Regions from separate parts of the Homo sapiens genome. Here region 1 is linked to region 2. Evidence: fine-mapped expression QTL. Tissue or cell type: blood mononuclear cells. Region 2 holds a variant in brackets; the other region holds the start of a gene. All regions are shown on one strand. Distances are from middle to middle.

Region 1 (5,000 bases), 210 kb after region 2:
TTTGTGCTCCTATGAGAATCTAATGCCCCCACTGATCTGAGGCCCAGCTCGGGTGGTAATGTTCACTCACCTGCTGCTCACCTCCTACTGTGCCACCAGGTTCCTAACAGGCCAGGTATGCATACTGGTCAGTGACCCAGGGGTTGGGGACTGAGCTGCAACATGGATGAACCTTGAGGACATTATAAGTGAAATGAGCCAGTCACAAAAAGATAAATACTGTATGATTCCACTTATATGAGGTACTTAGTAAAAAATTATAGAGACAGTAAGTAGAATGTTGGTTGTCAGGGTTTGGAGGATGTGGGGAGGAAAGGGTTATTGTTTAATGGGTAGTTTGTTTTGCAAAGTGAAAAGATTTGTAGAGGTTGAAAGGTGGTGACGGTTGTACGTGAGTATACTTAACACCACTGAAATGTACACTTGGTTAAGATAGTAAATTCTTTTTGAGACGGAGTCTCGCTCTGTTGCCCAGGCTGGAGTGCAGTGGTGCGGTCTCGGCTCACTGCAAGCTCCGCCTCCCGGGTTCATGCCATACTCCTGCCTCAGCCTCCTGAGTAGCTGGGACCATCGGCGCCTGCCACCATGCCCGGCTAATTTTTTGTGTTTTCAGTAGAGACGGGGTTTCACCGTGTTAGCCAGGATGGTCTTCATTTCCTGACCTCGTGATCCACCCGTCTCGGCCTCCCAAAGTGCTGGGATTACAGGCGTGAGCCACCGCGCCTGGCCAAGACAGTAAATTTTATGTGTATTTTACAATTTTTAAAATAAAAAAAGGTCTTTCGTCTTTTCCCATTGTTTTATTACATTTGCTTTGCCAAGTAAGACATTCCTATATAATTTTAATGTTTTGTTCCATTAGTTATTTTAACTATTTTGTAATAACTGACACTTTCCGGTTTTTTTTAACCTGGTACAGCAAGAGACTATTTCTCACTGGTCTTCCCCACTTGCATCCTTTGGCACATACATTTATGTATTAGGTTCTGTAAATTATTTGCTTGGGATTGTATGACTGGAGAAACATTTCCTACATTTTTCCAAGGCAGGCAGAGGCAAATTATACCACTACAGTAATTCCAAATTTGTGTTTCATTTAAATGTCCTCCACTATTGTTTCAGTAATTTTTATGTATGTTTCTCTAGGCCCTTAAATGTGATATCCCTCCATTAAGTTTGTTTCCAAGAAAGCAATATTCTCAGTTACTTCTGAGACAGGTAACTTCTCTTTCCCTTATTTTTAAAGATATCTATTGCTGGGAGCACTGATCGGAATGGATTACCTCTACATTCTTCATATTTGCAGACTGCTTTTAGTTTTAGTTCCCAGACTTTTGGTCTTAAAGACGCCTTTACACTAAAAAATTACGGGGGACCTCAAAGAGCGTGTACGTGAGTTATAATTATCAACATTTACTCAATTAGAAATTAAAATTGGTATTTCTAAGCGCAAGAATACACATGCGCACATTCCATTAACCGCCACTGCAATGGCGTCATCACATGTTATGTGATCACTGGAAATTACTACACGAACGTTAGAGAGAGAATGAGAATGAAAAGGAAAATAGTTTTGACACGAACTGACCCCGCTTCCTGGGTCTCCAATCCACCCCACCACTACCCCCATTCCAGGAGTCCCAGGATCAAGCTTTGGGAAGCGCCATCCGTCACAGGTCTTGGTCTCCCCTTCCAAAAGTCAGTGCCTCTCCAGGCTGCCCATCCCCAGCAAAGATCCGGAAGTCCGCTGCCCCTGGCAACAGCACCCAGCACCTAGCCCTCTGCTTCGCCGTACCGCACCCGGAAGTCGGAGCTGCGCACGCACCGCGGGACTCTGATTTCCCGGCGTGCCCCAGGAGAGCGGCGTGGACGCGTGCGGGCCTAGAGGCCCACGTGATCCGCAGGGCGGCCGAGGCAGGAAGCTGTGAGTGCGCGGTTGCGGGGTCGCATTGTGGCTACGGCTTTGCGTCCCCGGCGGGCAGCCCCAGGCTGGTCCCCGCCTCCGCTCTCCCCACCGGCGGGGAAAGCAGCTGGTGTGGGAGGAAAGGCTCCATCCCCCGCCCCCTCTCTCCCGCTGTTGGCTGGCAGGATCTTTTGGCAGTCCTGTGGCCTCGCTCCCCGCCCGGATCCTCCTGACCCTGAGATTCGCGGGTCTCACGTCCCGTGCACGCCTTGCTTCGGCCTCAGTTAAGCCTTTGTGGGCTCCAGGTCCCTGGTGAGATTAGAAACGTTTGCAAACATGTCCCGGATCGAAAAGATGAGCATTCTGGGCGTGCGGAGTTTTGGAATAGAGGACAAAGATAAGCAAATTATCACTTTCTTCAGCCCCCTTACAATTTTGGTTGGACCCAATGGGGCGGGAAAGACGGTAAGTCTTCAGTAGCCGCCTTCAGTTTACAGGTCGCTACATCTTTCGGAGAATAAAATGGGAAGTTGAGAACTCTCCTTAGGAGCAGAAGCGTCCCTAGGGCTCCACAGGTGTAGGCCCTTAAAGTGCCTTAGGGTGTGGCCTGCAGGCTACAGCGACCTTAGGAGTTTGCCTGAAGCAGTCTCGGAAGGATGTCCGGACCTGGCCTGGGGACAAGGTTTACTTAAGAATCCCACGATACCGGGAGCTGTCGCCGCTCACTCAGAGTTCAGTTCCCACTGGATGCCCTTTGGTCTGTATTGATGTTTTTAACGCTGTCTCCTTGCTTTCAAAGCATAGCATTCACTTCCCAGTAGTTGTCCCATACAAGAATTCCTTTAAAAGTTATAAAATGATACATACATGACTAAAGAGTTTCCAAGTATGCCAACTGTCCAGACATAATACATGGAAAATAAATAAATTCAAAATGTAACTGATGTAGTGGGGCTTAACTTGGAAAACTTCTCTTCTTAAAACTCAGTCAAAAATTTAACGTTGGTGCACGACTGACTTTTTTTTTTTTTTAAAGCCGTGGGAATATTTATAAATTTGAATGGAAAGAATAACCAAGAGGCATTCTGGTCAGGAATAGTGGCTTAAGAAAAAGCAAGACGATGTCAGTATAGCAGGGAGAAGAGTCTAAAGGAAGGATTTGTGAAGAGTGTAGAAAGAGAGAAGGTTGAGAATTGAATGCCAAACTTGTTTACTTTTGTTTTTGTAAAAATGTTATTTGTTGAATGCTTGTTATGTACTTAGGATTGTACTAAATACTAGCAGAAGGGAGAGTAGTACTGTATAGTGTTTATGAGGACTGGCTGCCTCAATACAGCTTTTTCGCTTCATTTATTAGTTGTCTGATTGTTTGCGAGTGACCTCACTGCTCTGTGCCTTAGTTTTCTCATTTATAAAATGGAGATTAAAAATAGTTTCTACAGCTGGGCACGGTGGCTCACGCCTGTAATCCCAGCACTTTGGGAGGCCGAGGCGGGTGGATCACCTGAGGTCAGGAGTTCGAGACCAGCCTGGCCAACGTGGCGAAACCCCATCTCTAATAAAAATACAAAAATTAGCCAGGCGTGGTGGCGCATGCCTGTAATCCTAGCTACTGGGGAGGCCGAGGCGGGAGAATCGCTTGAACCGGGGAGGTGGAGGTTGCAGTGAGCCGAGATCACGCCATTGCACTACACCAGCCTGGGTGACAGAGGGAGACTCTCTCCCCCCACAAAAAAAAAAAAAAAAAAAAAAAAGTTTCTACAGGCTGGGCATGGTGGCTGACGACTGTAATCCGAGCCGTTTGGGAGGCTGAGGCTGGGGGATTGCTTGAGCCCAGGAGGTCGAGAGGTCGAGGCTGCAGTAAGCCATGATCATGCAGCTGCACTGCAGCCTGGGCAGCAGAATGAGACCCTGTCTCTTAAACAAAAAGTTCCTACAGCCTGGAGTTAATGTGAGAATTAAATAAATGTATGTAAGAGTGCTTAGTACAATACAGTACTTAACTGTTAGCCATTCTTATTATTAACTTAAATTAGTTTAAAGGGTTTCAGTTGAAAATAATTATTTTTTTCCCAAGTAACAATTCTTCATATTAGGATAACTTCTTAGTTATATAGCATTTCTGTGAACTTACAGCATTAACACTTAATCATATTTTTATTACAGGTTTTATAATGTCAGATTTTATCTTTTATAGTTTCCATGATAAATAATATTTTTGTAATGAATTCATATTTTATGGTAAACTTCTGTGGTTCTCTTATAACGAAATAATGTAATTTTCTATTTCTTTAGACCATCATTGAATGTCTAAAATATATTTGTACTGGAGATTTCCCTCCTGGAACCAAAGGAAATACATTTGTACACGATCCCAAGGTAATGGTGCTAGTACAATTTTGTATTTTTATAATTATAAAAATGATAATAGCTTATTATAGAAAACTTGGCACTGGAAAACTATAAAGAGAAATGAAAGTCAGCCCCACACAGTTTTAGCACCCAGTAGTAACCGTTGTTGACATTTTCATGTGTTTTCCTCCTCCTTTAAATACTGTTTTATATAGCTGATGTCATACTCTTAATTTTGTATTCTGGGTTTTTTTCCCCACTTAACATTATCATGAAGTCCTATGTCATTAAAAAACTATCATCTGGGTGTTTGGTATGTAAGTGTTTCTTTTAATCTTTATACTGCTTTGTATGTCTGAGATATTTTCTACTTAAAGTGCATGAACACTTTAGTAGTTATGTAATTTTCTTACATTAGATTGCTTTCAGTTTTTCATTAAAATGTACCATGATAAGCCAGGCTTGGGGGTGTGTGCCAATACTCCCAGATAGCTCTAGAGGCTGAGATGGGAGGATTGCTTCAGCCCAGGAGTTCAAGGCTAGCCTGGACAATATAGTGAGACCCACTGTCTAGAAAAAAAAGTATCATGATAAAAATCTTTGTGTATGAATCATTGTTTGAATTATGGTGTTTATACTATTCGTATGTGTAAAGGACATAGAATTTGGTCTATAGGTTTGTTTTTGCACATATAGAAGTGAAACAACAATACACACACACACACACACACACACACATATATAT
Region 2 (5,628 bases):
AGGCAGCAAGGCAGCTCCTAGCTACAGTTTCAGCAGCTACACCTCACAGCCCTTACACCATTAAATGCTCCCCATTTGTTGTGCTTTTGTTGAGCACGTGACTAAACCTCCTGTTTCCTAAAAATGGCTTAAGATATATTTTGCCGGTAGATACAAAATCAGAAAAACTGCACAAACCAGTTAGATTGGTAGAGGTGGTTTATGTGCCCCATAGCCAAGAGAGGTGTGCACCAAGGAGGATATCATCAAATCTGACAATCTGGAAAGCCTTTGAAACTGTTCTTTTCCTAAGCACAGTATTCAGCTGTGTCCTCTTGAACCCATATCTATCAGGTCAACAGCTTTAGCCCATTCCACATGATATTGGCTGTGGGTTTGTCATATATAGCTCTTATTATTTTGAGAAACGTTCTATCAATACCTAGTTTATTGAGAGTTTTTAGCATGAAGGGCTTTTGAATTTTGTCGACGGCCTTTTCTGCATCTATTGAGATAATCAAGCGGTTTTTGTCATTGGTTCTGTTTCTGTGATGGATTATGTTTATTGATTTGCATATGTTGAAACAGCCTTGCATCCCAGGGATGAAGCCCACTTGATCGTGGTGGAGAAGCTTTTTGATGTGCTACTGGATTCGGTTTGCCAGTATTTTATTGAGGATTTTTGCATCGATGTTCATCAGGGATATTGGTATAAAATTCTCTTTTTTTTTTTTTTTTTGAGACGGAGTCTCGCTCTGTCGCCCAGGCCGGACTGCGGACTGCAGTGGCGCAATCTCGGCTCACTGCAAGCTCTGCTTCCCGGGTTCACGCCATTCTCCTGCCTCAGCCTCCCGAGTAGCTGGGACTACAGGCGCCCGCCACCGCGCCCGGCTAATTTTTTTGTATTTTTAGTAGAGACGGGGTTTCACCTTGTTAGCCAGGATGGTCTCGATCTCCTGACCTCATGATCCACCCGCCTCGGCCTCCCAAAGTGCTGGGATTACAGGCGTGAGCCACCGCGCCCGGCCTCTCTTTTTTTTGTTGTGTCTCTGCCAGGCTTTGGTATCAGGATGATGCTGGCCTCATAAAATGAATTAGGGAGGATTCCCTCTTTTCTATTGCTAGGAATAGTTTCAGAAAGAATGGTACCAGCTCCTCTGTACCTCTGGTAGAATTTGGCTGTGAATCTGTCTGGTCCTGGACTGTTTTTGGTTGGTGGGCTATTAACTACTGCCTCAATTTCAGAGCCTGTTATTGGTCTAATCAGAGATTCAACTTCTTCCTGGTTTAGTCTTGGGAGGCTGTATGTGTCCAGGAATTTATCCATTTCTTCTAGATTTTCTAGTTTATTTGTGTAGAGGTGTTTATAGTATTCTCTGATGGTAGTTTGTATTTCTGTGGGATTGGTGGTGACATCCCCTTTATCACTTTTTATACCATCGATTTGATTCTTCTCTCTTTTCTTCTTTATTAGTCTTGCTAACAGTCTATCAATTTTGTTGATCTTTTCAAAAAACGAGCTCCTGGATTCGTTGATTTTTTTGAAGTTTTTGTGTCTCTATCTCTTTCAGTTCTGCTCTGATCTTAGTTATTTCTTGCCTTCTGCTAGCTTTTGAATTTGTTTGCTCTTGCTTCTCTAGTTCTTTTAATTATGATGTTAGGGTGTTGATTTTGATCTTTCCTGCTTTCTCTTGTGGGTATTTAGTGCTATAAATTTCCCTATATACCGTGCTTTAAGTGTGTTCCAGAGATTCTGGCACGTTGTGTCTTTGCTCTCATTGTTTTCAAAGAACGTCTTTATTTCTGCCTTCATTTCGTTATTTACCCAGTAGTCATTCAGGAGCAGATTGTTCAGTTTCCATGCAGTTGTGCAGTTTTGAGTGAGTTTCTTAATCCTGAGTTCTAATTTGATTGCACTGTGGTCTGAGACACAGTTTGTTGTGATTTCTGTTCCTTTACATGTGCTAAGGAGTGCTTTACTTCCAACTATGTGGTCAATTTTGGAATAAGTGTGATGTGGTGCTGAGAAGAATGTATACTCTCTTCATTTGGGGTGGAGAGGTCTGTAGATGTCTATTAAGTCTGCTTGGTGCAGATCTGAGTTCAAGTCCTGGATATCCTTGTTAACCTTCTGTCTCATTGATCTGTCTAATATTGACAGTGGGGTGTTAAAGTCTCCCATTATTATTGTGTGGGAGTCTAAGTTTCTTTGTAGGTCTCTAAGGACTTGTTTTATGAATCTGGGTGTTCCTGTATTGGGTGCATATATATTTAGGATAGTTAGCTCTTCTTGTTGAATTGATCCCTTTACCATTATGTAATGGCCTTCTTTGTCCCGTTTGATCTTTGTTGGTTTAAAGTCTGTTTAATCAGAGACTAGGATTGCAACCCCTGCTTTTTTCTGCTTTCCATTTGCTTGGTAGATCTTCCTCCATCCCTTTATTTTGAGCCTATGTGTGTCTCTGCACGTGAGATGGGTCTCCTGAATACAGGACACGGATGGGTCTTGACTCTTTATCCAATTTGCCAGTCTGTGTCTTTTAATTGGGGCATTTAGCCCATTTACATTTAAGGTTAATATTGTTATGTGTGAATTTGATCCTGTCATTATGATGTTAGCTGGTTATTTTGCTTGTTAGTTCATGCAGTTTCTTCATAGCATCGATGGTCTTTACAATTTGGCATATTTTTGCAGTGGCTGGTACCGGTTTTTCCTTTCCATGTTTAGTGCTTCCTTCAGGAGCTCTTTTAGGGCAGGCCTGGTGGTGACAAAATCTCTCAGCATTTGCTTGTCTGGAAAGGATTTTATTCTTCACTTATGAAGCTTAGTTTGGCTGGATATGAAATTCTGGGTTGAAAATTCTTTTCTTTAAGAATGTTGAATATTGGCCCCCACTCTCTTCGGGCTTGTAGGGTTTCTGCCGAGAGATCCGCTGTTAGTCTGATGGGCTTCCCTTTGTGCGTAACCCGACCTTTCTCTCTGGCTG[C/T]GCTTAACATTTTTTCCTTCATTTCAACCTTGGTGAATCTGCCAATTATGTGTCTTGGGTTTGCTCTTCTTGAGGAGTATCTTTGTGGCATTCTCTGTATATCCTGAATTTGAATGTTGGCCTGCTTTGCTAAGTTGGGGAAGTTCTCCTTGATAATATCCTGAGGAGTGTTTTCCAACTTGGTTCCATTCTCCCTGTCATTTTCAGGTACACCAATCAAACGTAGATTTGGTCTTTCACATAGTCCCATATTTCTTGGAGGCTTTGTTCGTTCCCTTTTACTCTTTTTTCTCTAATCTTCTTGAGTTATTTCATTAATTTGATCTTCAATCACTGATATCCTTTCTTGATCGAATCGGCTATTGAAGCTTGTGCATGTGTCACAAAGTTCTCGTGCCATGGTTTTCAGCTCCATCAGGTCATTTAAGGTCTTCTCTACACTGTTTATTCTAGTTAGCCATTCGTCTAATCTATTTTCAAGGTTTTTAGCTTCCTTGCGATGGGTTAGAACATCCTCCTTTAGCTGGGAGAAGTTTATTATTACTGACCTTCTGAAGTCCACTTCTGTCAGCTCGTCAAAGTCATTCTCCACCCAGCTTTGTTCCATTGCTGGCAAGGAGTTGTGATCCTTTGGAGGAGAAGAGGTGCTCTGGTTTTTAGAATTTTCAGCTTTTCTGCTCTGGTTTCTCCCCATCTTTGTGGTTTTATCTACCTTTGGTCTTTGATGTTGGTAACTTACAGATGGGGTTTTGGTGTGGATGTCCTTTTTGTTGATGTTGATGCTATTTCTTTCTGTTTGTTAGTTTTCCTTCTACCAGTGAGGTCCCTCAGCTGCAGGTCTGTTGGAGTTTGCTGGAGGTCTACTCCAGACCTGTTTGCCTGGGTATCACCATCAGAGGCTGCAGAACAGCAAATATTGCAGAACAGCAAATATTGCTGAGTGATCCTTCCTCTGGAAGCTTCATCCCAGAGGGGCACCTGCCTGTATGAGGTGTCAGTCGGCTACTGGGAGGTGTCTCCCAGTTAGGCTACATGGGGGTCAGGGACCCACTTGAGGAGGCAGTCTGTCTGTTCTCCAAGCTAAAACACCATCCTGGGAGAACCACTGCTCTCTTCAGAGCTGTCAGACAGGGATGTTTAAGTCTGCAGAAGTTTCTGCTGCTTTTTGTTCAGCTATGCCCTGCCCCAGAGGTGGAGACTACAGAGGCAGTCAGCCTTGCTGAGCTGTGGTGGGCTCCACCCAGTTCGAGCTTCCACAGCCACTTTATTTACCTACTCAAGCCTCAGCAATGGCGGATGCCCCTCCCCATGCCAGGTTGCTGCCTTGCAGGTCAATCTCAGACTGTTGCACTAGCAGTGAGCAAGGCTCCATGGACATAGGATCTGTCGAGCCAGGCACAGGATATAATCTCCTGGTGTGCCATTTGCTAAGACTTTGGAAAAGCGCAGTATTTGGGCAGGAGTGTCCCGTTTTTCCAGGTACCATCTGTCACGGCTTCCCTTGGCTAGGAAAAGGAAATCCCCTGACTCCTTGCGCTTCCCAGGTGAGGCGATGCCCTGCCCTGCTTCGGCTCACCCTCCGTGGGCTGCACCCACTGTCCAACCAGTCCTAGTAAGATGAACCAGGTACCTCAGTTGGAAATGCAGAAATCATCCGTCTTCTGCGTCGATCACACTGGGAGCTGCAGACCAGAGCTGTTCCTATTTGGCCATCTTGGAACGGAATCCTCAATGAGATATTTTAAGAAGTTAAAAAATATTTGTAAAGAGCATCTGAAAAAAGAAATATGTAATATGTTTAAGAAATTTTTGAAAAAGATCATTGATAAGGGGAAATGTTCTCTTACATATATAAAAACACACAATGACTACACTACTCTGGGTTTCCTGGAAAACACACAAACACACACACACACACACAGACACACACACAAAAGATAAATCAATCAACGAAATAGAAGAGGTATCACAGAAACAGACCCAAGTGTTGAAAAATTGTAACATATGATAAAGATGAATTATAAATTATCAAGAAAATGATACATTGTTGAAGACTGGTGCTGGGACAATCGACAAGCTGAAGAACTGGTAAAAATGGAAAAACTGGGGGAATAAATAGTATCCCACCATAAACCACATACCAAATTAATTCCTGATCAACTAAAGAGCCAAATGTAATAAATGTAAATAAAATAGAGCCAAGAGTAAATAAATCAAAAGCTAGAAGAAAATATAGGTGACATTTAATTTTAAGATGAATAGGAAATTGAAGATAAATAGATTTTACTATAAACTTTTAAAGAATTCTGTACAACAGAAAATCTTAAAATTAACTCAAGTTGGAAAAGTATTAACAAAAACATACTGGACAAAATTACCATCCTTTGTACATATGCATCAATTTTTGTAATGCCCACTAATACTCCAGTTAAAGCAAATAGGGCTAAGTACATAGCCTTTGGAGACAAGTGTTCCAGGACCTGATGCTGGGTGTGTCACTTCTCTATCAGCTGTGTGACTTTGAGCAAGTTACAGTCTTCCCTAAAACTCAGCTTCTTCATCTGTAAAGAGGGATGATAACAATTCCATTTGGGTGGGGATTACATGAGACAATGCATACTGTGTTTGGCTCCATACCTGGCAAAGATGTCCACGTTTTTGC

Evidence for each region. PIP is the estimated chance that this variant, and not a neighbour inherited with it, causes the effect.
Region 1: RAD50 starts here. The variant in region 2 is fine-mapped to the expression of RAD50 in blood mononuclear cells (TOPMed, PIP above 0.99). The same link has a PIP of 0.9 or more in whole blood.

Annotation. Positions count from the first base shown.
Region 1 is chr5:132,555,086-132,560,085 of GRCh38, forward strand. RAD50 (RAD50 double strand break repair protein) reads left to right here and starts at 1,892. Exons shown (of 25, transcript NM_005732.4): 1 at 1,892-2,368; 2 at 4,199-4,282. The coding sequence starts at 2,240. It also overlaps a transcript of IL5 not described here. RefSeq lists an enhancer at 1,515-2,175.
Region 2 is chr5:132,345,219-132,350,846 of GRCh38, forward strand. MIR3936HG (MIR3936 host gene) reads right to left here. Exons shown (of 8, transcript NR_110997.1): 5 at 4,597-4,739. Among named protein-coding and RNA genes, the nearest start is that of MIR3936, 18 kb to the right of the region's middle. RefSeq lists a silencer at 618-790. The variant C/T (reference allele first, on the strand shown) is at 2,967.